Linked DNA regions of Homo sapiens. The protein of the gene in region 3 interacts with the protein of the main gene of each other region in a pairwise test. Each region holds a gene or a part of one and is shown on either strand. Other genes may lie near its edges. The genes, in order: SLC25A20, SEPTIN2, JPT2 and RASA4.

The links.
Region 1: the proteins of JPT2 (region 3) and SLC25A20 interact in a two-hybrid assay, tested with the Homo sapiens proteins (one large-scale study listed by IntAct).
Region 2: the proteins of JPT2 (region 3) and SEPTIN2 interact in a two-hybrid assay, tested with the Homo sapiens proteins (one large-scale study listed by BioGRID).
Region 4: the proteins of JPT2 (region 3) and RASA4 interact in a two-hybrid assay, tested with the Homo sapiens proteins (one large-scale study listed by IntAct).

The regions. Positions count from the first base shown.
Region 1 is NC_000003.12:48,891,336-48,897,229, reverse strand, and holds part of SLC25A20 (mitochondrial carnitine/acylcarnitine carrier protein), read left to right. Parts: intron 1-5,157; coding exon 5,158-5,250; intron 5,251-5,894. UniProt on the Homo sapiens protein: Mediates the electroneutral exchange of acylcarnitines (O-acyl-(R)-carnitine or L-acylcarnitine) of different acyl chain lengths (ranging from O-acetyl-(R)-carnitine to long-chain O-acyl-(R)-carnitines) with free carnitine ((R)-carnitine or L-carnitine) across the mitochondrial inner membrane, via a ping-pong mechanism.
Region 2 is NC_000002.12:241,341,913-241,347,806, forward strand, and holds part of SEPTIN2 (septin-2), read left to right. Parts: intron 1-1,079; coding exon 1,080-1,181; intron 1,182-1,839; coding exon 1,840-1,985; intron 1,986-4,253; coding exon 4,254-4,337; intron 4,338-5,894.
Region 3 is NC_000016.10:1,683,870-1,689,763, reverse strand, and holds part of JPT2 (jupiter microtubule associated homolog 2), read right to left. Parts: intron 4,326-5,894; coding exon 4,177-4,325; intron 1-4,176. UniProt on the Homo sapiens protein: Nicotinic acid adenine dinucleotide phosphate (NAADP) binding protein required for NAADP-evoked intracellular calcium release. Confers NAADP-sensitivity to the two pore channels (TPCs) complex.
Region 4 is NC_000007.14:102,612,341-102,618,983, reverse strand, and holds the start of RASA4 (ras GTPase-activating protein 4), read left to right. Parts: upstream 1-2,227; 5' UTR 2,228-2,294; coding exon 2,295-2,359; intron 2,360-2,438; exon of another isoform or gene 2,439-2,461; intron 2,462-6,643. UniProt on the Homo sapiens protein: Ca(2+)-dependent Ras GTPase-activating protein, that switches off the Ras-MAPK pathway following a stimulus that elevates intracellular calcium. Functions as an adaptor for Cdc42 and Rac1 during FcR-mediated phagocytosis.

The DNA.
Region 1 (5,894 bases), on a different chromosome or scaffold from region 3:
TATTTAGCAACCAGAAAGCCTCTTTTTAGCTTAAACCAAAACCACAAATTGCTGACTGCTGTGTTTTTGGCCTTAGTGAGCTGGGTGGGCTCCAATCAAAGCCTGACCTTAAGGTACTTTCAGAGTTCCAAGGTTAAAAAAAAAAAAAAAAAAGGAGAAGAAGAAAAAAAAGAAGTCCAAGATAGTGTAACTGAGCTGTGGGCTGTGTGTCCTGACAAGGCAAAAGCTGCAGCGCTTCAGAGTGGGTCATGAAAAGGCTCTATGGAAGGTGGTGCGTTAGAACAGGCATTCAAGTGCTGGGTGAGTTCAGACTGAAGGAGTAGGGAGACCCAGACAGTCTGATGGGAAGGCAGGAGTGAAGGTGAGTGTGGCTTGCAAGTGGGGATCATATTATAAAATAAGACAACCTAGGCCGGTCACGGTGGGCTCATGCCTGTTAATCCCAGCACTTTGGGAGGCTGAGGCAGGTGGATCACCTGAGGTCAGGAGTTCGAGACCAGCCTGGCCAACATGGTGAAATCCCATCTCTACTAAAAATACAAAAAAAAAAAATTGGCTGCATGTGGTGGCAGGTGCCTGTAATCCCAGCTAATTGGGAGGCTGAGGCAGGAGAATCGCTTGAACCCACAGGGCGGAGGTTGCAGTGAGCTGAGATTGTGCCATTGCACTCCAGCCTGGGTGACAGAGTGAGACTCCTTCCCAAAAACAAAACAAAACAAAACAAAACAAAACAAAACAAAACAAAAACCACCTGCAAAGGACTTTAATGTTCTTGCTGGTTTGGATGGCTGATATCCTGTTGAGACAGGTATGAGGTATGAAGTGTATATAAAATCACAAAAAGGCAGCCTTGGCAACATGGCAAGACCTCATGTCTATAAAAAATACAAAAATTAGCTGGGCATGGTGGTGCACATCTGTAATCCCAGCTACTCAGGCGGCTGAGGCTGGAGGATCGGTTGAACCTAGGAGTTTGAGGCTGCAGTGAGCCTTTGCACTCCATTCTGGGCAACAGAATGAGACACTGTCTCAAAAGAAAAAAAAAATCACAACAAGGTATTAGTCAGAATTTTTTTTTTTTTTTTTTTTGAGACAAGACTCTCCCTCTGTCACCCAGGCTGGAGTACAGTGGCAGGATCTTGGCTCATGGCAACTTCCATCTCCCGAGTTCAAGCAATTCTTTTGCCTCAGCCTCCTGAGTAGCTGGGATTATAGGTGCCCACCACCATGCCTGGCTAATTTTTGTATTTTTAGTAGAGATGGGGTTTCTCCATGTTGGGCAGGCTGGTCTCAAACTCGTGGCCTCAAGTGATCCTCCGGCCTTGGCCTCCTGAAGTGCTGGGATTATAGGTGTGAGCCACTGTACCTGGTCTAGTCAGAAGCTTTGATCCATTTCTCTCTCTCTACTAACTAGGGGAGGTTATGCCTGACTATGGGAGATCTGAAGGACAATATGAGGGATTTTGGATGTAAAGGTATGGTGGCCTCTGGGCATTTCTATTGTGTCCCATAAACCCCTCAGACTTACGTGTCACCTCTGTTGCCCAGAGAGGGACTTCCTTGGTTTGATATGGAAGGCCCTGACAAATACAAGAATAATAAATTCTAAAGAAATTATTAAAAAAATGGTAAAAATGATGATATAGAAGGACCTGACAAATACAAGAATAAGAGATTCCAAAGAAATAAAGAAACAACATGGTAAAAATGATGTTTTGGAAAGGTTAGTATAATAGCAACCTTGAGAAGGATTTGGAAGCAGAACAGTGAGCAGGAAAAACATCCAGGAAGGGCTGGGCGCGGTGGCTCACGCCTGTAATCCCACTTTGGGAGTCTGAGGCGGGCAGATCACCTGAGGTTGGGAGTTCAAGAGCAGGTGACCAACATGGAGAAGCTCCGTCTCTACTAAAAATACAAAATTAGGCCAGGCATGGTGGCTCACGCCTATAATCCCAGCACTTTGGGAGGCTGAGGCGGGCAGATCACCTGAGATTGGACGTTCGAGACCAACCTGAGCAACGTGGAGAAATCCCATCTCTACTAAAAACACAAAATTAGCTGGGCTTGGTGGTGCATACCTGTAATCCCAGCTACTTGGGAGGCTGAGGCAGGAGAATCGCTTGAACCCAGGAGGCAGAGGTTGCGGTGAGCCCAGATCGCACCATTGCTGTGCAGCCTGGGCGACGAGTGAAACTACATCTCAAAAAATAAATAAATAAATAAAAATAAATATACAAATGCAAAATTATCCGGGAGTGGTGGCACATGCCTGTAATCCCAGCTACTTGAGAGGCTGAGGCAGGAGAATCGCTTGAACCTGGGAGGCAGAGGTTGCGGTGAGCCAAGATCATGCCATTGCTCTCCAGTCTGGGCAATGAGTGAAACTCTGTCTCAAAACAAAACAAAACAAAACAAAATTCAGGAAAAAGACTGCAGAAGTAACTGGATATATCAGTTATCTATTGTGGTTTACCAGTTTCCTCCAATGAGGCAGGAGGATCACTTGAGCCCAGGAGTTTAAGGCTGCAGTTAGCCAAGATGGCACCACTGCATGCCAGCTTAGGTGACAGAGCAAGACCTTGTCTCAAAAAAACCCAAAAAACCAAACCAACTTACCCCAAAACTTAATGGCTTAAAACAACAATAAACATTTATCAGGGCCGGGCCGGTGGCTCATGCTTGTAATCCCGGCACTTTGGGAGGCCGAGGCGGGTGGATCACCTGAGGTCAGAAGTTCGAGACCAGTCTGGCCAACACAGCGAAACCCTGTCTCTACTAAAAAAAAAAAAAAAAATGCAAAAGTTACCTGGGTGTGGTGGCACGCACCTGTAATCCCAGCTACGCGGGAGGCTGAGACAGGAGAATCACTTGAACCCAGGAGGCTTGTGGTGAACTGAGATTGAGCCACTGCACTCCAGCCTGGGTGACAGAGCAAGACTCTGCCTCAAAAAAAAAAAAAAAGACAATCCAATTAAAAATCGGCAAAGACTCCAGCCTGTAAGACCCTGTCGAGAGAGAGAGAGAGAGAGAGAGAGAGAGAGAGAGAATCTTCTTCTTTTTTTTTTTTTTTTGAGAAGGAGTCTCACTCTTGCCCAGGCTGAAGTGCAAAGGTGCGATTTTGACTCACCACAACCTCTGCCTCCCGGGTTCAAGCAATTCTCCTGCCTCAGCCTCCCAAGTAGCTGGGATTACAGGTGCGTGCCACCACACCTGGCTAATTTTTGTATTTTTAGTGGAGACAGGGTTTTGCCATGTTGGCCATGCTGGTCTTGAACTCCTGACCTCAGGTTATTGACCCACCTCAGCCTCCCAAAATGCTGGGATTACAGGTGTGAGCCACCGCGCCTGGCCTCCTTTTTTTTTTTTTTTTTTTTTTTCTTTTTTAAAGAGACTGGGTCTTGGCTGGCCATGGTGGCTCATATCTGTAATCGTAGCACTTTGGGAGGCTAAGGCAGGCAGATTGTATGAGTCCAGGAGTTCCAGATCAGCCTGGGCAACATGGTGAAAACCCATCTCTACAAAAAAACCAAAATTAGCCGAGCATGGCATGCACCTGAGGTCCCAGCTACTTGGGAGGCTGAGGTGGGAGGATCACCTGAGCCTGGGAGGCGAAAGTGGCAGTGAGCCAAGATCATACCACTGCACTCCAGCATGGGCGAGACAGTGAGACCCTGTCTCAATAAATAAATAAAAAGAGACCAGGTCTTGCTCTTTTACCCAAGCTGAAGTGTAGTGGCACCATCACAGTTTTCTGTAATCTTGAACTCCTGGCCTCAAGTGATCCTTCCACCTCTGCCTCCCAAAGTTCTGGGATTACAGATGTGAGCCACCACACCCAGCCATGGACCTAAATAGGCATTTCTCTGAAGATGGGCTAATAAGCATGTGAGAAGTTGTTCAGTGTCATTATCCATCATGGAAATGCAAATCAAAATCACAATGACATACCACCTCATACCCAATATGATGGCTTAAAAAAAAAAGTTAGATATAGAGCAATATAGTGAGATTCTGTCTCTACAAAAACAATAAAAATTAGCCTGGCATTGTGGTGTGCACCTGTAGTCCCAGCTGCTTGGGGGGCTGAGGTGGGAGGATTGCATGAGCCCAGGAGGTCAAGGTTGTAGTGAGCTATTGACCACACCGCCGCACTCCAGCCTGAGTGACAGAGTGAAACCTTGTCTCCAAAAAAAAAAAGTATATATATATAAAGATAATAAGTATTGAAGATATGGAGAAATTGGGACCCTCCTAGACTGCTTATGGGAATATAAAATGGTGCAGCCACTTTGCAAAACAGTCTGGCAGTTCCTCAAAAGGTTTAAACAGAGTTGACATATAAGTTAGAAATTATGCCAGTGGATAAATACCTGTGATGGTTAATTTTATGTGTCACCTTGACTAGGCCACAGAGTACCTAGGTATTTGGTCACACATTATTCTGAGTGTGCTTGTGAGGGTGGTTTTGGATATTAACATTTGAATCTGTGGACTGATTAAAGCTAATTGTCCTCCCTAATGTGAGTGGACCTCATCCAGTTGAAGGCCTAAATAGATCAAAAGGCTGACTGACACTTCCTGCAAGTAAGAGGGAACTCCTGCCTGAATACTTGAGGTGGGACATTAGTCTTTTCCCGCCTTCAGACTTGAACTGAATCATTGGTTCTTTTTGGGTCTCAAACTTGCCGACTACAGATCTTGGGACTTCTCAACCTTTATAATTGTATGAGCCAATTGCTTATAATAAATCTCTTGATATATATCTCCTGTTGGTTCTGTTTCTCTGGAGAATTCTGACCAATACAATACCGAAGAGAACTGAAAACATATATCCACACAAAAAACTTGTACACAAATGTTTATAGCAGCATTATTCATAATAATCAAAAAGTAGGAAAAACACAAATGTCTATGAACTGATGAATAGGCAGGCATACAAAATGTGATTTATTCATACGATGGGATATTATTTGCCAATAAAAGGAATGAAGTACTAATGAAATGAAAGAGAAGTTTGAATCCAGCAGGTTAAGTGAATGCCAAAGACATGTACAAGGGTACAGCCTTCCCTGTTCAGTTTGGCAGACAGTTGGGCCATTGCTGCTGACAGGCAGTTCTGATTCTGGTAGGTGACTGCATTTTAACTTCTGTTTTCAGGTCCGACTGCAGACACAGCCACCGAGTTTGCCTGGACAACCTCCCATGTACTCTGGGACCTTTGACTGTTTCCGGAAGACTCTTTTTAGAGAGGTTGGTATATGGTGCTGGGCATTCCTCTTACTCAGAACACATTCACGGGGTTGATTTGTTACCCCCAAGGAGAGTAGGTTAACTGTGTGGTTCTGCTGGACAGCTAGCTCACAGCTGCCGCTCCTTCACCACGCCACCCTGTGCCCCCCTGTTGTCATCTGCTTTGGAGTCTCTGATAGTTCTAGCTACTGTTTTATACAGATGACTAAGGCTAATAAAATGGTTCTCTCTTTTGGAAGATGGAATTTAGACGACGGAGAACTAGTGAGTAATAATTGAGATGTGAAATGGAAGAAAATGTACATCTGAGCTGGGTGTGGTGGCTCACGCCTCTAATCCTAGCGCTTTGGGGGCCAAGGCAGGTGGATCACTTGAGGTCAGGAGTTTAAGACCAGCCTGGGCAACATGTAGAGAGTGTCATCTCTACAAAAAATGCAAAAATTAGAGGGGCATGGTAGCGCATGTACATCTGTAGTCCCAGCCACTCAGGAGACTGAGGTGGGAGGATCACTCCACCAGGAGGTAGAGTTTGCAGTGAGCCAAGATTGCACCACTGCACTCCAACCTGGGTGACAGAGTGAGACCCTGCCTGAAAAACAAAAAAAGGCCAATCATGGTGGCTTACGCCTATAATCCCAGCACTT
Region 2 (5,894 bases), on a different chromosome or scaffold from region 3:
GAGTGCTAGGGTTTTAATTGATTGACTGATGAATGCATTCGTATTTCAACTTCAGCCCAGTTCTTTCTCCCCTCAAGCCCCATCCCCCACACTACTGCCTGCTTGATAGGTCCGATTGTGGGATTTCACTGCTGACTGCTGGCTGCCTGTTGAATGAAATACAGATCCCCAGGTCGCTAGCCTGGTGTTGATGGAACTCTCCACTTTGTAATTCCAATTTTTGTTTCCTTATCCAACTGGATGTCTTAGATTCCAACCTTTTGAATTTCTTATTCTCAAAATGCACCCCATGTGTCCTCTCTGTGCCTTTGACGAGGTTTTGTTTTTTTTTCTTTCTTTCTTCCTTTTTTTCCATCTGGGGTACTTCTCCCTTCTCTCTGCTTTTAAGACTCCTGCCTGTTCTCCAGGGTCTTCTCATGCCTGTAGCTTCTCTGTGGCAATTACCCTTCTTGAGGCTGATTGTGGTGTGATTTCCATTTTAGCTGTTGTGCTGGGGCTATCGTTAGTCTTCCTGCTGCTTTGTACATTGAGGGTAGTGGTGCATTATTGCTAATGTTATTTTTATTCTGTACAGAGGATCCTCAAAATTCAAGTATAAATACCTTTCTAGCAGTTTTGTAAATTTTTTTTTTTTTTTTTTTTTTTTGAGACGGAGTCTTGCTCCGTCACCCAGGCTGAAGTGCAGTGGTCTCAGCTCACTGCAAGCTCCGCCTCCCGGGTTCACGCCATTCTCCTGCCTCAGCCTCCCCAGCAGCTGGGACTACAGGCGTCCACTGCCACGCTTAGCTAATTTTTTTGTATTTTTAGTAGAGACAGGGTTTCACCATGTTAGCCAGGATGGTCTCCATCTCCTGACCTTGTGATCCACCTGCCTCGGCGTCCCAAAGTGCTGGGATTACAGACGTGAGCCACCACACCCGGCCGCAGTTTTATAAATTTATTTGACAGTAACTTTCGTCATCAGTTTGATTATTGACATTTGTATGATTTCCAATATATTTCTTACAAGATGAGCTAGAATTGGCTACAATAACATACGCAGTTTGCTAAAATTGATCCTGGTTTTGTCATTCTCTCAGATTCTGGATGAAATTGAAGAACATAACATCAAAATCTATCACTTACCTGATGCAGAATCAGATGAAGATGAAGATTTTAAAGAGCAGACTAGACTTCTCAAGGTAAGAACTGGCTTCAGATCCACAACATAAATAACTCCTGTTTACTGTTGTCCATGTTGAGGTGAGAGAGATTGCCTGGGTATGTTCAGTTACGAGAGTATTTTTGCTTTCAATATATTTTAAGACCTCATGCAGTGGCTCATGCCTATAATCCCAGCACTTTGAGAGGCCAAGGCAGATGGATCAGTTGAGGCCAGGAGTTCCAGACCATCCTGGCCAACATGGTGAAATCTCATCTCCATCAAAAATACAAAAATTAGGTGGATGTGGTGGTGCACACCTGTAGTCCCAGCCACTCGGGAGGCTAAGGCAGGAGAATCACTTGAACCCAGGAGGCAGAGGTTGCAGTGAGCCGAGATCGCGCCTCTGCACTCTAGCCTGGCGACAGAGCAAGACTCTGTCTCAAAAAAAAAAAAAATTTGATACAGCTATCACCTAAAGCTTAGAAATTTTATTGTAGGTTTAATTTGTTTTCGTACAATTTGTCCCATGTAGAAAGTATCTGACACTTTTCAAGAAAATGTTACATACCCCCAGCTTTCCAATTCAGTTTTGTAGTCAACAGCAATGTGTTAAGTCTGTGCTAATGTTCTCGTGTTGCCAGTGAACTCTGGGGTTCCCTGTGTGGAGCCTGTCTACTCTGTGTGTCTCTTTCTAGGCTAGCATCCCATTCTCTGTGGTTGGATCCAATCAGTTGATTGAAGCCAAAGGAAAGAAGGTCAGAGGCCGCCTCTACCCCTGGGGTGTTGTGGAAGTGGAGAACCCAGAGCACAATGACTTTCTGAAGCTGAGAACCATGCTCATGTAAGACATTTGGTGTGTTCCTTCTGGCAGAATTTGGCGTGAAGAATATGGATTTCAGACGGGGTGTACACTTGGCCCCCAAGATAGTTGCAGCCAGCAGCTTCATTGCCGCCCTCAGTGTTTCTCACATCGCAGAAGTGGTGTGGGGCTGTTGCAGATTGGTGCTGAGAACCCTCACCCAGGGGCCCTCTGTGGCACTACTAAACTAGCGCTTCTGCCTGTGGCCTGTAGCCTGCAGTACCTTTCCTTCTTGCTAAGATCTTACATCTTTGATGTTAAAAGGAGAAAAGGAGACTAGAACCTAAACTGGGGTCTGAGAGGTCCCCAGTGCTGGTAAGGAAACAGTCAGGCTGTATAGGCCCCTGGTCCACTGCTCCAGGCTGAGCCACCCCTGGTGCCCTGCTCACCAGTCTGAGACTCATTGTATGGCCCTGGTTAGCTTTTTGTGTCTTCCATTTATTATTAATAGCAATTACAGACCTGACTACAAAAATAGTCTTCTTTAAAAATGAATTTCATGGCTGGGCGTGGTGGCTCACACCTGTAATCCCAGCACTTTGGGAGGCTGAGGCAGGCAGATCACGAGGTCAGGAGTTCAAGACCAGCCTGACCAACATGGTGAAACCCCATCTGTACTTAAAGTGCAAAAAATAAATTAGCCAAGCGTGGTGGTGCGCACCTGTAATCCCAGCTACTCAGGAGGCTGAGGCAGGAGAATCACTGTTGAACCAGGAGGCAGAGGTTGCAGTGAGCCAAGATTGCACCACTGCACTCCAGCCTGGGCGACAGAGCGAGACTCTGTCTCAAAAAAATAATAAATTAAATAAATAAATTTCACATATTGTAACATGCATACATTGCTTTTACTCTTGAAAAAAGAGGCTGAGGCCGGGTGCGGTGGCTCATGCCTGTACTCCTGGCATTTTGGGAGGCCCAGGCGGGCGGATCACTTGAGGTCAGGAGTTTGAAACCAGCCTGGCTGACATGGTGAAACCAGCCTGGCCGACATGGTGAAACCAGCCTGGCCAACATGGTGAAACCCTGTCTCTACTAAAAATACAAAAAAATTAGCCGAGTGTGGTGGTGGGTGCCGGTATTCTCAGCTACTTGGGAGGCTGAGGCAGGAGAATCGCCTGAACCTGGAGGTGGAGGTTGCAGTGAGCCGGGATTGCGCCACTGCACTCCAGCCTGGGCAACAAGAGCAAGACTTCATCTCAAAAAAAAAAACCAAAAAGAACAGGCTGAGAGTATTGCTTAAACTATACCTCTTTAATCAGAGGACTTCAAAGAATGACTGATGTGGATAAATCAGTGTTTTGATTAGCTGAAAGTCGCTACATATTTGCCGCATGTCTCACTTAGTTTAGCAATTTGTAGTGAGTTAAAATAAGTAAGCATGTTACCATCCAAGCTGTGTCAAACACAATTTAATGGTTGTGTAAGAAGTTAAGCGCACTCAGCCCCTCCAGGGCTGCATCCTTGTGGCTATCCTGATCCCCATTATTGAGGGGGGTGTAGAGGCTGAAGACAGGGTTTGGGGACTTTACTTTAGTGTCAGTTGTGTGTTTCTCACAATGAGGTAGAGTGAGCCACTCCTTGGCTATCTCAATCCATTTCCCTGGATCCTGAATCAATAGGAACGTGTTACAATGTTTGCTCATTCTTGCCTGCTTTTAAGTATTTTGAATAAGCTAGGCAATTAAAAAAAATTTTTTAAGAGTGCTTCATAAGATGAATGGAAGGTTAAGTTGCTGACTAATATTCTTGGATCCAGAATATTAGTCCTTCACTTTATGGTCTTGTACATAGCTTAAGCTAACCAACTCTTTTTTCTCATATGAGAGTAATATATAAATTTTGAGTTATAGGAGGCATGAATATTTTCATTACATTTTCCGTAAGTCCTTTTAGAAGAGTGTCTTCTATTTCAGACATTGTTGACCTGAAAATCTCTTAAAATCTGTCTGCCATCCTGTGGTAGTGATGGCCTCACACAGGGGTGGCAGTGCCTCTAGCAGAAATCCCCCTGAGAGACTCAGTCGAGACCTGTGTTTGTATATCATTTATTGGGGAAGAAAGGGAGAGCTACACCTCACTAGACATTTCCACGGCCATACTCATTATCCTGAAATCCCAGCAGCTTTATGTACAATTTACCAAGTAATTTTAATTACTGCTATTTCTTCTATGTACTTGATGGGTGGTTTTTTTTCTCATGAGAATGTCATGTGCATGATGCCACCTTGGTGCATTCCTCTTCTCTTTCAGCACCCACATGCAGGATCTCCAGGAGGTGACCCAGGACCTTCATTATGAAAACTTCCGTTCTGAGAGACTCAAGAGAGGCGGCAGGTCATCACACTGTGCCCCTTTCTCTGTATTGTGTCACCCTGAGCCACAATGTTCCTCCTCCTCTATGTGTTCAGCTCAGCCTTCTTGACCATTAAGCAACATGGTTTGGTTTCCTACTCAAAAGTTATTATAAAAGAGTTGTTAATTTAATCAAATTATGCTCTTTTAGCCTTTTTAAGAAAAAGTACATTTAATGATATGCACGTAAAAACTTTAGGCCAGGCACGGTGGCTCATGCCTGTAATCCCAGCACCTTGGGAGACCAAGGCAAGGTAGATTGCCTGAGCGCAGGAGTTTTGAGACCATGAGATTACATGGTGAAGTCCCATCTCTACAAAAATTTAAAAAAAAAAAAATTAATTTAGCCGGGCATGGTGGCACACACCTATAATCCCAGCTACTCGGGAGGCTGAGTTGGGAGGAGCAGTTGAGCCTGGGAGGTGCAGTGAGCCATAATTGCACCACTGCACTTTATCCTGGGCAATAAAACAAGACCCTGTCTCAAAAAACAAACAAAAACTTTAGATGGAAAGGCCAGAGGCTTGTGTCGAGTTCTCCTTCAAAAGCATCACTCTGTACGTGAGGACAAACTTGTTGCCATTAGGAAACTGCAGCACCTGAGTTAAGGGTGAGGCCAGGATGAGTGGCATCCAAGCAGCCAGTGGCCGTTGAAGCAGCAGCTTCGATCCTCGCAAAGTCCTGCAGCCATCCTCACTCACCTTTTCTTTTTAACCATTCTAATATGTTTTTATATAAGTTTTCTGGGAGGCCAAGGCAAGTGGATCACTTGAACCCAGTAGTTTGAGACCGGCCCTGGCAACATAGGGAGACCTCGCCTCTATAAAAATTTTTTTTAAATTAGCCAGATGTGGTGGTGCATGCCTGTGGTCCCAGCTACTAGGGGGAGGATTCCTTGAGCCCAGTAGGTCCAGGCTGCAGTGAGCTATGGTCGCACCACCACGCTCCAGACTGGGCAACAGAGTGAGACCCTGTCTCAACAACAAAAGTTTCCTGTGTTGTAATTCATTAAAATTCTCACATTCTAATAATTTGATGGATTTCTAGATACATATGTTGTACACATTGAAGTCTAATTATGAGTTTGGAAATGAGACATTAAGAAAGATTTTAGAGGCAGCAAGAAAATTCCACCCTCTGGAAGCTGAGTAGGCGCTGGCCCTGAGATGGAGATTAGTGTGCTTTGCAGAGCACAGTTCTCAGGTGTGCTTGGGGAGCTTACCCTTTGCCCCTCGTTCACTCACGCAGATCCTGCTCCTTAAATGTGGTGACTACATTCGCATTAATAAAGAATAACATCTCAAAGCAAATTCTTCAGATAATACCTATTTTTGAGTGGGTAACAGCAAGTGTTGTCGCTCAAGCTTAGAGTAAGAAAAGTCTCTTGAATGTTCCATTTCATGTTGTTCGAACTTTTTAAAATCATTCTGTTCCCTTTTTATTCATTATATCTTTAATTAGAAAAATGATAGGCTGGGCGTGGTGGCTCATGCCTGTATTCCCAGCACTTTGGGAGGCCAAGGTGGGCGGATCACTTGA
Region 3 (5,894 bases):
AACTTTAAAAAGGTAACAAACAGTCCAAGTGCACTGGCTCACACCTGTAATCTTAGCACGGTGGGAGGCCAAGGTGGGAGGACTGCTTGAGTCCAGGAGTTCAATACTAGCGTGGGAAACAAGTGAGACCTTGTCTCTACAAAAATATTTTAAAATTAGCCTCTGGTCCCGCTCCTCAGAAGGTTGAGGTGAGAGGACTGCCTGAGCTCAGAAGTTGGAGGCGGTGAGCTGTGATGGTGCCACTGCACTGTAGCCTGGGTGACAGACTAAGATCCTGTCTCAAAAAACCAACAAAACAAAAAAAAGGTAATAAATAATCATACCTACCTAGGGTCACTGGTGAGGCTAAACAAGTTAACTCAGGTGACGTGGTTAGAATAGTCCTGGCCTGCTGAGTAAGCCCTCAGCAATGCTGCAGGGCTGTGTCAACAAGCACGTCAGGACCACGGGGCGGATAAAACTGTGTGTGCAACCCCCAGCCCCCACTGCAATGTTCCTGGCTGTGCTATAACGGCTGACTTTTTTTTTTTTTAATGTGACTCCAGCTTTTTAAAATAGAAGATAAAAGTAACTCAATTTGAAGTTTTTGGCCAAAGACATCACTCATTTTTAAAAAATAGTTAAACTGTGAAACATAACAGAAAAGTCTGTAAGACATTAACTATCACAAATAACTACAAGGCAGACACCAGGTAACCACTGCCAAAGTCATCGAGAACAGTGCCCGTTCCCAGAAACTCCTGTGTTCCTTCACTCTCACCCAAGGTTACCACACTCCTGAATTTTTTGGAAACCACAAACATTTTTACCACGTATACGTGCAATAGGTACTAAACAATGTACCTCTGCTTTTAACCTTCATAACTAGGTAGTCATACCACATATGTCTATTACCATTTTACTTGAAAAATAAATTCAGCTTTGAAGCAAGAAAACATGCTTAAATTCACTAATAATTGAAGATAAACTCGAGAGATGTTTTTTCCTCCTGCTAGATTTTTGATTTCCAAGGGCTCTGTGTTATTTTGTTTTTAAAAATATCATTTATTTATTTGGGAGATTGGGCCTCGCTATGTTGCCCAAGCCAGTTTCAAACTCCTGGGCTCAGGCAATCCTCCCACCTCGGCCTCCCAAAATGCTGGGATTACAGGCGTGAGCCACCGCACCTGGCCTACAAGATTTGTTTTTAAAAGCAAAACTAAAAGATAAATACTGCTGGTGCAAATAAGCACATACACAAGAATGGTAAACACCAGGCAATGCCCTGAAAAACCGGTTGGAACTATCTATCCATATTTTAAACTCATATATCATCTGATCTACCAATTCCATTTTGAGAAATTTATCCCAGTGGATACATTCAGGAAGTCAGTTTAAGGCATGGAATCTGGAGTCAGAAAAACCTCAATTCAAAGGCTAGCTCTGCCACCGACTAGCACTGCTACCGGCTAGGTCTGCTACCGACTAGCTCTGCTACGGACTAGTTCTGCTACCGACTAGCTCTGCTACTGACTAGCTTGGGATTTATGCATGCCAGTGACCTTTTCCAAGCCTGTTTCCTCCTCTGTGAAAGGAGCAAAACAACCTACTCCTAGTTATAGCGAACACCAAATGAAAAATACACATGCAAAGCACTTAGCACAGTCCCCGGTAAATATTAACAATTCATAGACGTTGGTCATCATTGCTAGAAGAGGAAGAACAATTCATGGAACATCTAAACCAGGTGACTAACAAAGAACACAGAGACTACTGAAGATTCACTGAAACACTGAATGGGAATTGATAAACATTCGATGGCTATGATGTGGTCGGTCACACACACTCTCGGCCTCTGCATACTTTTCTCAATCAAGCCCTGCAACTAGAGGGCTGTGGGGCTAGGTCTGTGTGACTAAGTGTAGAAAGAAGGCAGGACTCCAGATCTCGTTGGGTGGTGAACACAACTAGCAGTTTCCCTTTCAGGCTTCCCTTGATAATATACCATAAACCGTCTTCCAAGAGCACTGGAGAGATAGGAAAACTCCCAACAACCGTGAGAAGGACCATGAGAAGCAGGAACCTGGCATGGGGAGCCATGATGGCTGGCACCACACACTGTGACCAGGAGTAGAGGCTGGCTCACTAACCGCAAGGGGCCGGGCTCCCCACTGGGCATGAGACCATGTGGAACGGGCAAAGTGGTACCGCCTGCCTTCCATGGAGTGCTCTAGGAACAGCTCCAGACATGACTCTGCTGAGTAGGGGCCAAATGAGCAGATTCATACACCTGGAAATGGCTCAGATAGGATTCTATCTTGCATGCGATATATTATTCTGCTATCCTTGCTAAAAAGGACATGCAGGAGTCCCTGGGCCTAAATTCATAAACCGGAAACAACGAGAATGTTAGTCACTTAATAAGAAACACTCATTTCTCTAACAACCAAAAAAGCAACCAAACAGACCAAAAAAAGGCAAGCAGCAAACCTAGCTTCGGCCGGGCACAAGGGTGCATGTCTGTAATCTCAGCAATTTGAGAGGCCGAGGTGGGCAGATGGCTTGAGCCCAGGAGTTCGAGACCAGCCTAGGCAACATGGTTAAACCCTGTCTCCACAAAAAATACAAAAAAAAATTACCTAAGCATGGTGGCATACGCCCGTAGTCCCAGCCACTCAGGAGGCTGAGGAAAAAGGGTCACCTGAGCCTGGGAAGTCAAGGCTGCAGTGAGTCATGGTGGTGACACTGCACTCCAGCCTGGGCGACAGAGTGAGACCCCGTCTCAAAACAGACTAAAAACAAAAGAAAAAACTAGTTTCTGGATCTACTGCTTTTTTTCCTCTACATTTGGTCAATAAATATTGGTACCCCAAAACGGAGTGAGGTCGGGAGTGGATCTGGCTCTGATTCATGACCTGCCTGACACAGTGACACCTAAGCACGGCCTCTCAAACCTTCTAAGGATGGAAGAGACCATGCTTTCCCCTCTTGTACAGACGGGGGAAAGCGACTCAGGTAACCTCCACTGGGTGGTTATTCAACTGGACAGTCTATCAGCCAAGAGAAACCTTTTTCTATTTTTTTTTTTTTTTCTTTTTGAGATGGAGTCTAGCTGTCACCCAGGCTGGAGTGCAGTGGCATGAATTTGGCTCACTGCCACCTCCACCTCCCGGGTTCAAGTGATTCTCCTGCCTCAGCCTCCTGAGTAGCTGGGATTATAGGCGTGCACCACCACACCCAGCTAATTTTTGTATTTTTAGTACAGATGGAGTTTTGCCATGTCGGCCAGGCTGGTCTCAAACTCTTGACCTCATGATCACCTGCCTTGGCCTCCCAAAGTGCTAGGATTACAGGCATGAGCCACCACGCCCGGCTGAGAAACCTTTTTCTTTTTCTTTTTCTTTTTTTTTTTGAGACGGAGTCTCGCTCTGTCACCCAGGCTAGAATGCAGTGGTGCGATCCCGGCTCACTGCAAGCTCCGCCTCCTGGGTTCATGCCATTCTCCTGCCTCAGCCTCCTGAGTAGCTGGGACTACAGGTGCCCGCCACCACGCCCGGCTAATTTTTTTTCTTTTTTAGTAGAGATGGGGTTTCACTGTGTTAGCCAGGATGGTCTCGATCTCCTGACCTCGTGATCTGCACACCTTGGCCTCCCAAAGTGCTGGGATTACAGGCATGAGCCACCGCGCCTGGCCAAGAAACCTTTTTCAAAGAGTCCCTCCTACTGTAACCACTAGGAGGTTGGGTAAATACTGAAGAACTATGTAGATGTGTGCTAGATCAATTCTTCCTTGTTAAGAGTTTCAATCCCACTGACGATCTGAATAAAAACACTCTCCCTCCCTAGGAAAAATGTTTAAATGCACAATAATTTGCACGCAATTTCAGGAATCTCATGGGGGTCCGTGGAACAATTGGGAGCAGCTCCCTGGCAGGAACCAGAAGCCCCCGTCCACTTTTGTGTCCTCAGTGCCTGTATTCAACCAAAGTCTCCAGAACAGATGGAGAATTCAAGACTACTCAAGTCACCTTCAAGAGAGAAAGTACAAATCAGAACGTTTTCATTTTGGAAGAACTCTGATAACAAGTGATTACCTGAACCAGACAATATGGGAAAGGATCAGTATAAAGAAACAGAAAATATTTTCAAAAGAGAATCGTGGAGGCCAAAGGATTAAGGATTTCCAAAGGCCCATACCTGGGGGATTTGTCCTCTTGGGTATGTTCTGAGGTTCTTCTGTTGGTCCAAAAATATTAGATGCCATCCTATTAGGCCTGCTGGAAGGAGTAGCTTCTTCTGGACTTCCAAAAAGATTGCTCGATTCTCCTCCTGGGGGCTTCATGGCCCTACAAGCACAGAGTACATGCCAATTACTGATGGCAGACCTGAAAGCTTGTCACTGTGCAAGGATTTTGGCACAACTAGACAGGGTAAAAGTATTTTGTTTTTTTCTTTTTGAGACAAGGTCTCATTCTGTCACCCAGGCTGGAGCGCAGTGACGTGATTTTGGCTCACTGCAACCTCTGCCTCCTGGGCTCAAGTGATCCTCCCACCTCAGCCTCCTGAGTAGCTGGGATTACAGGCACCCACCACCACAGCTGGCTAATTTTTTGTATTTTTGGTAGAGACAGGGTTTTGCCATGTTGCCAAAGTTGGTCTTGAACCCCTAAGCTCAAGTGATCTGCCCACCTTGGCGTCCCAAAGTGCTGTGATTACAGGTATGAGCCACCATACCCAGCAAAAGTATTTTCTTAACATCTACTGAGAAATCACATACCACCATTAGTTAATACTGGTATGACTAGTTTACAGACGCCAGACTACTTCTGCTGCTCTTTAGTTTCCCTTAAAAGTATTCTTTTTTTTTTTTTTTTGAGATGGAGTCTCGCTCTGTCGCCCAGGCTGGAGTGCAGTGGCACGATCTCAGCTCACTGCAACCTCTGCCTCCTGGGTTCAAGTGATTCTCCAGCCTCAGTCTCCTGAGTAGCTCAGATTACAGGTGCCTGCCACAACACCTGGCTAACTTTTGTTTGTTTTTTTTGAGACGGAGTTTTACTCTTGTTGCCCAGGCTGGAGGAATGCAATGGCGCAATCTCAGCTCACCACAACCTCCGCCTCCTGGGTTCAAGCAATTCTTCTGCCTCAGCCTCCCACGTAGCTAGGATTACAGGTATGCGCCACCACACCCAGCTAATTTTGTATTTTTAGTAGAGACGGGGTTTCGCCATGTTGGTCAGGTTGGTCTCGAACTCCTGACCTGGGGTGATCCACCTGCCTCGGCCTCCCAAAGTGCTGGGATTACAGGTGTGGGCCATCGCACCTGGCTCTTGAATCACTTTTTATTGTAAAAACTTAAACTTAAGAACTAATAAGGAATTGCCACAAAGCTCTATTTCTAGAGCACTATCTACATTAAAAACCGGTGAAACGCTGAATTCATAACAACTGGAAAAACTTTTAAATGCATTTGAGAGAGAGGCTTACTGAAATTGAGATTTAAACCAGTGAGTGGCACATGCTCTCTCACTAGTCCTAAGCAATGGGACTGTCTGTGATCCCAGACGTTTAGAAACGAAGTCAGCCCTCTGTATCCACGGGCTCTGCTTCCATGGATTCAACCAACCTCAGATCAAAATGTCAGAAATAAAAGGATGGTTGCATCTGTACTGAACATCTACAGACTTCTTTTCTGTCATTATTCCCCAGGTGATACGGTGTAACAACTATGTGCATAGTATTAGGTATTATATGTAACCTTGTAACCTAGAGATGATTTAAAAGCATATGGAGGATGTGCATAGGTTATATGCAAACATTACACCACTTTATATCAAGGACTTACACATCCTTGGATTTTGGCATCCTGGGGGTCCTGGAACCAACTCCCGCAGGATACCAAGGATGACCATACTTGA
Region 4 (6,643 bases), on a different chromosome or scaffold from region 3:
CCAGATACCTCCCATAGGTGGAAGCAACCACTATTTGTCTTTCTTTGTAACTGGCTCATTTCACTTAGCATTATGTCTTCAAGTTTCATCCATCTTTTAGCATGTGTAAGAATTTCCTTCCTTGCTTTTTTTGTTTGTTTGTTTGTTTGTTGAGACTGAGTTTCACTCTTGTCACCCAGGCTAGAGTGCGATGGTGCGAACTTGGCTCACTGCGACCTCTGCCTCCCGGGTTCTCAAGCAATTCTCTTGCCTCAGCCTCCAGAGTAGCTGGGATTACAGGCGCCTGCCACCACGCCCGGCTAATTTTTGTATTTTTAGTAGATATGGGGTTTCGCCATGTTGGCCAGGCTGGTCTCGAACTCCTGACCGCAGGTGATCCACCCACCTCGGCCTCCCAAAGTGCTGGGATTACAGGTGTGAGCCACCACGCCTGGCCTCGTTTTTGTTTTTGTTTTTGGAGACAGAGTTTTGCTCTGTCGCCCACGCTGGAGTGCAGTGGTGCGATCATACCTCACTGCAGCCTCCCCTCCTAGGCTCAAGCAATCTTCCTGCCTCGGCTTTCTGAGTAGCTCGAACTACAGACACACACTACCATGCCTGGCTAATATTTTTATTTTTTGTAGCAAAGGTGGGGGGGGGTCTCATTATGTTGCCCTGGCTGGGCTTGAACTCCTGGCCTCAAGTGATCCTCCCATCTCAAGCCTCCCAAAGTGCTGGGATTATAGGCGTGAGCCGCTGTGCCCAGCCTCAAACACTTTTTCTTTCAACGACATTGACCTATAGTGAATATCAAAAGCATGCACTGAAACTCAAGAGCTGCCTCCTCTCCTGTGCCAGGATGCACTGTAACTTTTGTGAGCCCTAGGCATGTTTGACTTATATGGGTTAAGATATTCAAATACGGCTAGGCACGGTGGCTCACGCCTGTAATCCTAACACTCTGGGAGACCGAAGTGGGCAGCTCACCTGAGGTCAGGTGTTTGAGGCCAGCCTGGCCAACCTGGTGAAACTCCATCTCTACTAAAAATATAGAAATTACCCAGGCGTGGTGGCAGGTCCCTGAAGCTCTGGCTACTCGGGAGGCTGAGGCAGGAGAATGCCTTGAGTCAGGGAGGCAGAGGTTGCAGTGAGCTGAGATTGCGCTACTGCACTCCAGCCTGGGTGATAGAGCGAGACTCCACCCCAAAAAAAAGAAAAAAAAAAAGATATTCAAATGTGTATTTTACAACTGCTTTGGCATAAAGACTGACTGATACCAGTCAGGTCAGATTCATTATTACATATTCATTACTATTATACTCCTGTTTGACTAGGCATGGTGGGCTCACATCTGTGGTCCCAGCCCTTTGGGAGGCCAAGGCAGGAGGATAACTTGAGGCCAGGAGTTCTAGACCAGCCTGGGCAACATAATGAGACCCCCCCATTTCTACTAAAAATAAAAAAAATTAGCCAGTCGTGGTGGTATGCATCTGTAGTCCCAGCTACATGGGAGGCTGAGGTGGTAGGATTGCTTGAACCCAGGAGATTGAGGCTGCAGTGAGCTATGATTGCACCACTGCACTTCAGCCAACAGAGCAAGCCCCTGTTTCAAATGCATGCATACATACATACATACATACATACATACATACATACATACACACACAAACCAACCAATACAAAAAATACATATTTTTTTTCTTCTGATTCTAAAAAACATAAAAACAGCCAGGCACGATGGCTCATGCCTGTATTCCCAGCACTTTGGGAGGCCGAGGTGGGCAGATTACCTGAGGTCAGGAGTTCAAGACCAGCCTGGCCAACATGGTGAAACCCCGTATCTACCGAAAATACAAAAATTAGCTGGGCGTGGTGGCGCGTGTCTGCAATCCCAGCTACTTGGGAGGCTGAGACAGAAGAATTGCTTGAAACCGGGAGGTGGAGGTTGCAGTGTCCCCCACCCGCTCCTCCAGGGGCGCCCCCCTCGAGCCACCGCGCCGGCTGCCCGGCGAGTGTCAGCGCCTCCTCACAGGCCCCGCCCCTCACGCCCCAGACGGCCAATGAGAGCTGCGGCCCCGGCCGGCCCCTCCCCGCCCTGGGGAACCCCGGTCGCGGATTGGCCGGCCCGGGCGCAGTGTCCCCCGCACGTGGGGCGGGGGCGGGGTGAGTGGAGTGGCAGCGAAGCCCCGCCCCCGCCGCCCCGCCCCCGCCCCCGCCTCCTCCCCGGCCCGCCCCACCTGCGGCGCCCAGTCCAGCGCCCGCCGCCCGCCACCCCGGACCCCGGTGTCTGGCTTCCCCCGAGCCGGGACCCCGCGATGGCCAAGCGCAGCTCGCTGTACATCCGCATCGTGGAGGGGAAGAACCTTCCCGCCAAGGACATGTGAGCGCGGCCGGGGGTGGGAGCCCCAACTTTCCGGGGAGGGGCACTGCCCCCCAGGACGCCTGACCTTTCCGGGGTCCACCCACAAGAGCAGCGGAGAGGGTGCGGGAGTGCGGCCGTGGTGGGGGATCGGCGGGGAAAATGGGGACAGTGACATTTTCTGCGAGCACCAGACGGGGTGACAACCGGGGGGCGGGGAAGTGTCACCGAGGGCTGGGGGCTGGGAACTAGGGAGGGGGCGAGAATTTGTCAGCGATCCGCGGCTCACGAGGGGAAGGGGCTTTGATACGACAGGAGCTGGAGCCTGGTGACATGCCAGGGGAGACGTCTTGGTGATCTGCCCCCGGGGTGGGGTTGGAGGGGGTGGGGTGTCCCCCGCAAAGGAAGGGTCTTCCTCAGTAGTTCCAGAGCCCTTAATGCCCCGGAGTGTGCACCTGAAGCACATGCTGGGGCCCAGGGGCTGTCCCCGGGCTTCCTGCTGTGCACTCGGGTAGGAGGGACTGGCATGAAAAGTGAGAACAGGTCAGGAGGCCAGGACAGGTGCAGGACTGTGGGGGAGGGAAGGAGGGTAGTAACTGTCGCTTGTGCCTTGGGCTTTACACCTGAGCCATCCCGTTAATCCTCTCAACCACCCCGAAAGGCAGTTCTCACCGTTCCATTTTACAGATGAGAAAACTGAGGTTCAGAGAAGTGAAATGCTGGCTCCAAGTGGCAGGCAGAGCAGGGTCTTGAGTCTAGGGCTTCTCACAGGCACTGACATCTGGGGATTCCCCTGGTCCCTGGCTCGATTTGGGGAGGTTTCAGGGGCCCCTTGTTCCACTCTTCTCAGTAGGTCCCAGGGCTGAGCTGCCTGACCCCTGGCCCACCATCTTGGTCTTGCCACCACCTTCCTCATGTACAGGGTTTAGGCAGCTCCCTGCTCCTAGAGCCTCAGTTTCCCCTCTTTAAACTAGGGGTTGAAATCCCTCTAGAGGAAGAGGGGGAAAGCTCAAAGGTCAAGGGGCACTGGCTGCCTGGAGGAGGAGGGTGGGAGGGGGAAAAGTGGAGCCTGGAGGAAACAGAGTCCAAAGTCTGCGGAGCTGCAGTTCCCCACCCCTTGGGCGCCCCGGGCTCCTGGATGCAGAGAAGTGGCTAGCATGGGCGAGGGGGTGGAGCAGGGTGGGGGGCAGGCACTCTGCTCACACATATGTGTGGTGGCCCCTGTGAGCTTCCCAGCAAGCTCAGCGCGCCACCACCGAGAGCAGTGCCAGTTCCAGGCCCCCTGGGTCTGATGAGGCCCAGCTCAGCAGTTACCATGACAATGGGGAAGGGAGGGCGGTGGGCATCCCTAGGTGGGTTTCTGTGCTTGGAGGCTTGGAGGGAGGTGGAGTGGGAGCTGGCAGTGAGGTCTGTGGGCTGGGAAGGCAGAGGAGCTCTGAGAAGGGTCTCAGCCTCCAGGCCCAGCCTTTAAGCATCCCCCACCCCCTGCCACCACTGGCACTAGGAACTAGGTCATCTTGGCCTCTTCTGGCTGGTGGCAGCTGGGAGGAGCAGCCCCTCCGTCTGTCGCCTCCCTCCTCATCCCCACAGCAGCTGGCCCTAGTGCCTGGCTCCAGGCTCTCTCCAGCCCAGGGCAGCCAAGCTCTTGGAGTATGCCCACCTGGGAGCCCAGTGCCTGGTTCCCTGCTCAGTGCTTTGCCTCTGGGCAAAGGGGTTCCATCTACAGTGGAGGGGTGCCTTGGGATCTCGATCCTCACCCTGCCCCCCTGCCTGCCCTACTCACGTCTCCTTTGCAACCCCCCATCTTCCCCTGTGGCTTGCATACACAGCTCTGACCTGTCAGCCGCCTCTTAAACCATCCCATAAACAGTCCCTCACATTTGGGCTACTACCCTTCACATCTCTGCTTTCGCCCATGTGTGGGGACTTCTGCCTTCAAGCACTCCACTTCAGTCCTCCAGAAAACTCCTATTCAATGTTCAGGACTCCTCTCAAACTTCTCCTCTCCAGGGCATTCCCTGGTGCACTTGGGCAGAGTTCCTGGCTCCTGGGCTCGCCCCCCAGCACTCTGGGTGGCAGGAGGAAGCCCCTGGTGTGGCAGTTCCTCCGTCAAGTGGTGCCTGTCCCAGCTGACTGTGAGGGCAGGGACTGTGACTCATTCATCCTGGCACCGGGTCCATAGTAGGGAGAATAAGAGGTGTTGAGGACTTCCCCCACTTAATCCTCTTCTTAGCTTTATAAGATAGACATCCTCGGTTTGCACATTGGGAAACTGAGGCTCAGGAAGTGAAAGCCATTTGCCAAGAGGGTAGGTAGAGAAGTCAGGATTCAGATTGCCTTTGCTGCCGACAGGCTGAGAATTCTAGCCTGCCCGCGGCTGTAAGCTTGCGGCTGGGCTCAGTGAGACTGAGCCTCGGAAATCCTATGCAAAGCATTTGGCTGCAGAGTCGGGCAGGGGTTTGGAGATCATGGGAGGCCCTCACTGAGTACTGGAGTTTCACTGTGCCTCACCAGCACCCCGCCTATCTTCTGAGTAGCATCTCCTCCAGCCAGGGCTTGCATACTTCTGAGGACGGGGAGCTTACCACCTCTCATAGTGGCTCATCTTGACTGAGACAGTTCCAAGGAGGAAGCTGTCCTCACACAGCTGCCAGCTGCCTTCCTGCCACTTCTACTCATGGGTTTTTATTCCTCTAAAGGGCACAGAGCGCAGCTGCATTCCCCATCACTGCTAGCTTTCAGAGCCTGCCTGTTCCTGCCCTGCCTCTTCCCACTGTCTCTCGTCCCCACGTACCTAGGCATGAGCCAAGTCTCACGATGACCAGTGACCCACTGCCTCCCACACCAAGTGGCCTTGGGGACTGGCCCAAGGCTATTTTGGGGTTTTCCCTGATCCTCCTCCTTCCACAGCCTAGAAACTGCCAAGGCCCTAAATATAGAGGCCCCGAAAGTAGCCAGACAGGCCAGTGGCAACTGGCTCGGGAAAGGAGAAATGAGAGAGGTGGGCAGCCTAGGGGCCTCAACACTAGCGAAGAAGGAACTGGGCAGGGCTTGGGTCCCAGCAGCCCACTGGGGACCATGGTTGGGCCCAGGTCCTTAAATCTGGCCTCGGCCTGCTCTCAATACCGTCCTCTTGCCCCACCTCTGATCCAGCCACCCGGCTCTTCATAGTCCTTGCACACCAGGACTCGGGTCCTGCTTCCAGGCCTTTGGAAGCAGTAGCAGCCCAGTAGTGGGGGACAGCCCACGGAGGTCCCCTGTTGCCTCAGTCAGTACTGACCTCTCCCTGCCTCCTCTGAGCTCCTTGTATGGCTCCTGGATCCTGCAGCCCAGCCCAGCACCTGGGGTGTTCAGAGGCCTGATTTCTTAGCACCTGGAGTCCCCTGGCTTTGGGTTGATGGGATGCAAGCTGGGGTATTCACAGGGGGCTCCCTGGAGGTGGGGGGGCTCTTTATTTTATTTTATTTATTTCTGAGACAGAGTCTTGCTCTGTTGCCCAGGCTGGAGTGCAGTGGCGCGATCTTGGTTCACTGCAACCTCCTCCTCCGGGGTTCAAGGGATTCTCCTACCTCAGCCTCCCCAGTAGCTGGGATTACAGTTGTACACCACCACTACATTCGGCTAATTTTTGTATTTTTCGTAGAGACGGGGTTTCACCATGTTGGCCAGGCTGGTCTGGAACTCCTGGCCTCACGTGATCTGCCCACCTCGGCCTCCCAAAGTGCTGGGATTACAGGTGTGAGCCACCACACCTGGCCAGGAGGCGGGGGCTCTCAAATGATGGCAGGGGGAGGTTACAGTCAGAGATGCAGGCAGTGCTAACATTTACTGAGCACCTCCAAGACCTTCTCTATCGTCTCAGGACCCAGGGAAGCTCCCTTGTGAGCCGGGGTTACACTTCCCACTTTATAGGTAGGAAAACTGAGTCTTGGCAGACATTTCCTGTCTGTGTCCAGGAGCTTCTGGAGCTGTTGGCCCCAAATGCCTTCCTCTGCCGGAAGAGCCCCTTTTGAGAAGGGAAGCAGAGCTTGGAATTCCCCACCCTCCACCATAGAAACACACTTCCTTTTTATGGACACTCACTGGAGGAACAGCTCTAGAGACAGCCCTCACTTCCCCACTTTTACCCAGTACCAGCCCTAGGCCTGGCTGCAGGCCTCTCCCAGCCCCAGGAGCCCCCCAACACCTGAGACCCTTGGAACTGAGCGCGTGTTTGCCTTCCCCCATCCCTCTTTCCCCAGATAGCTGTTACATTTATTCATTCATTCACTCATCAGTTCATTCATTCGTCTGTTCATTCGGCAA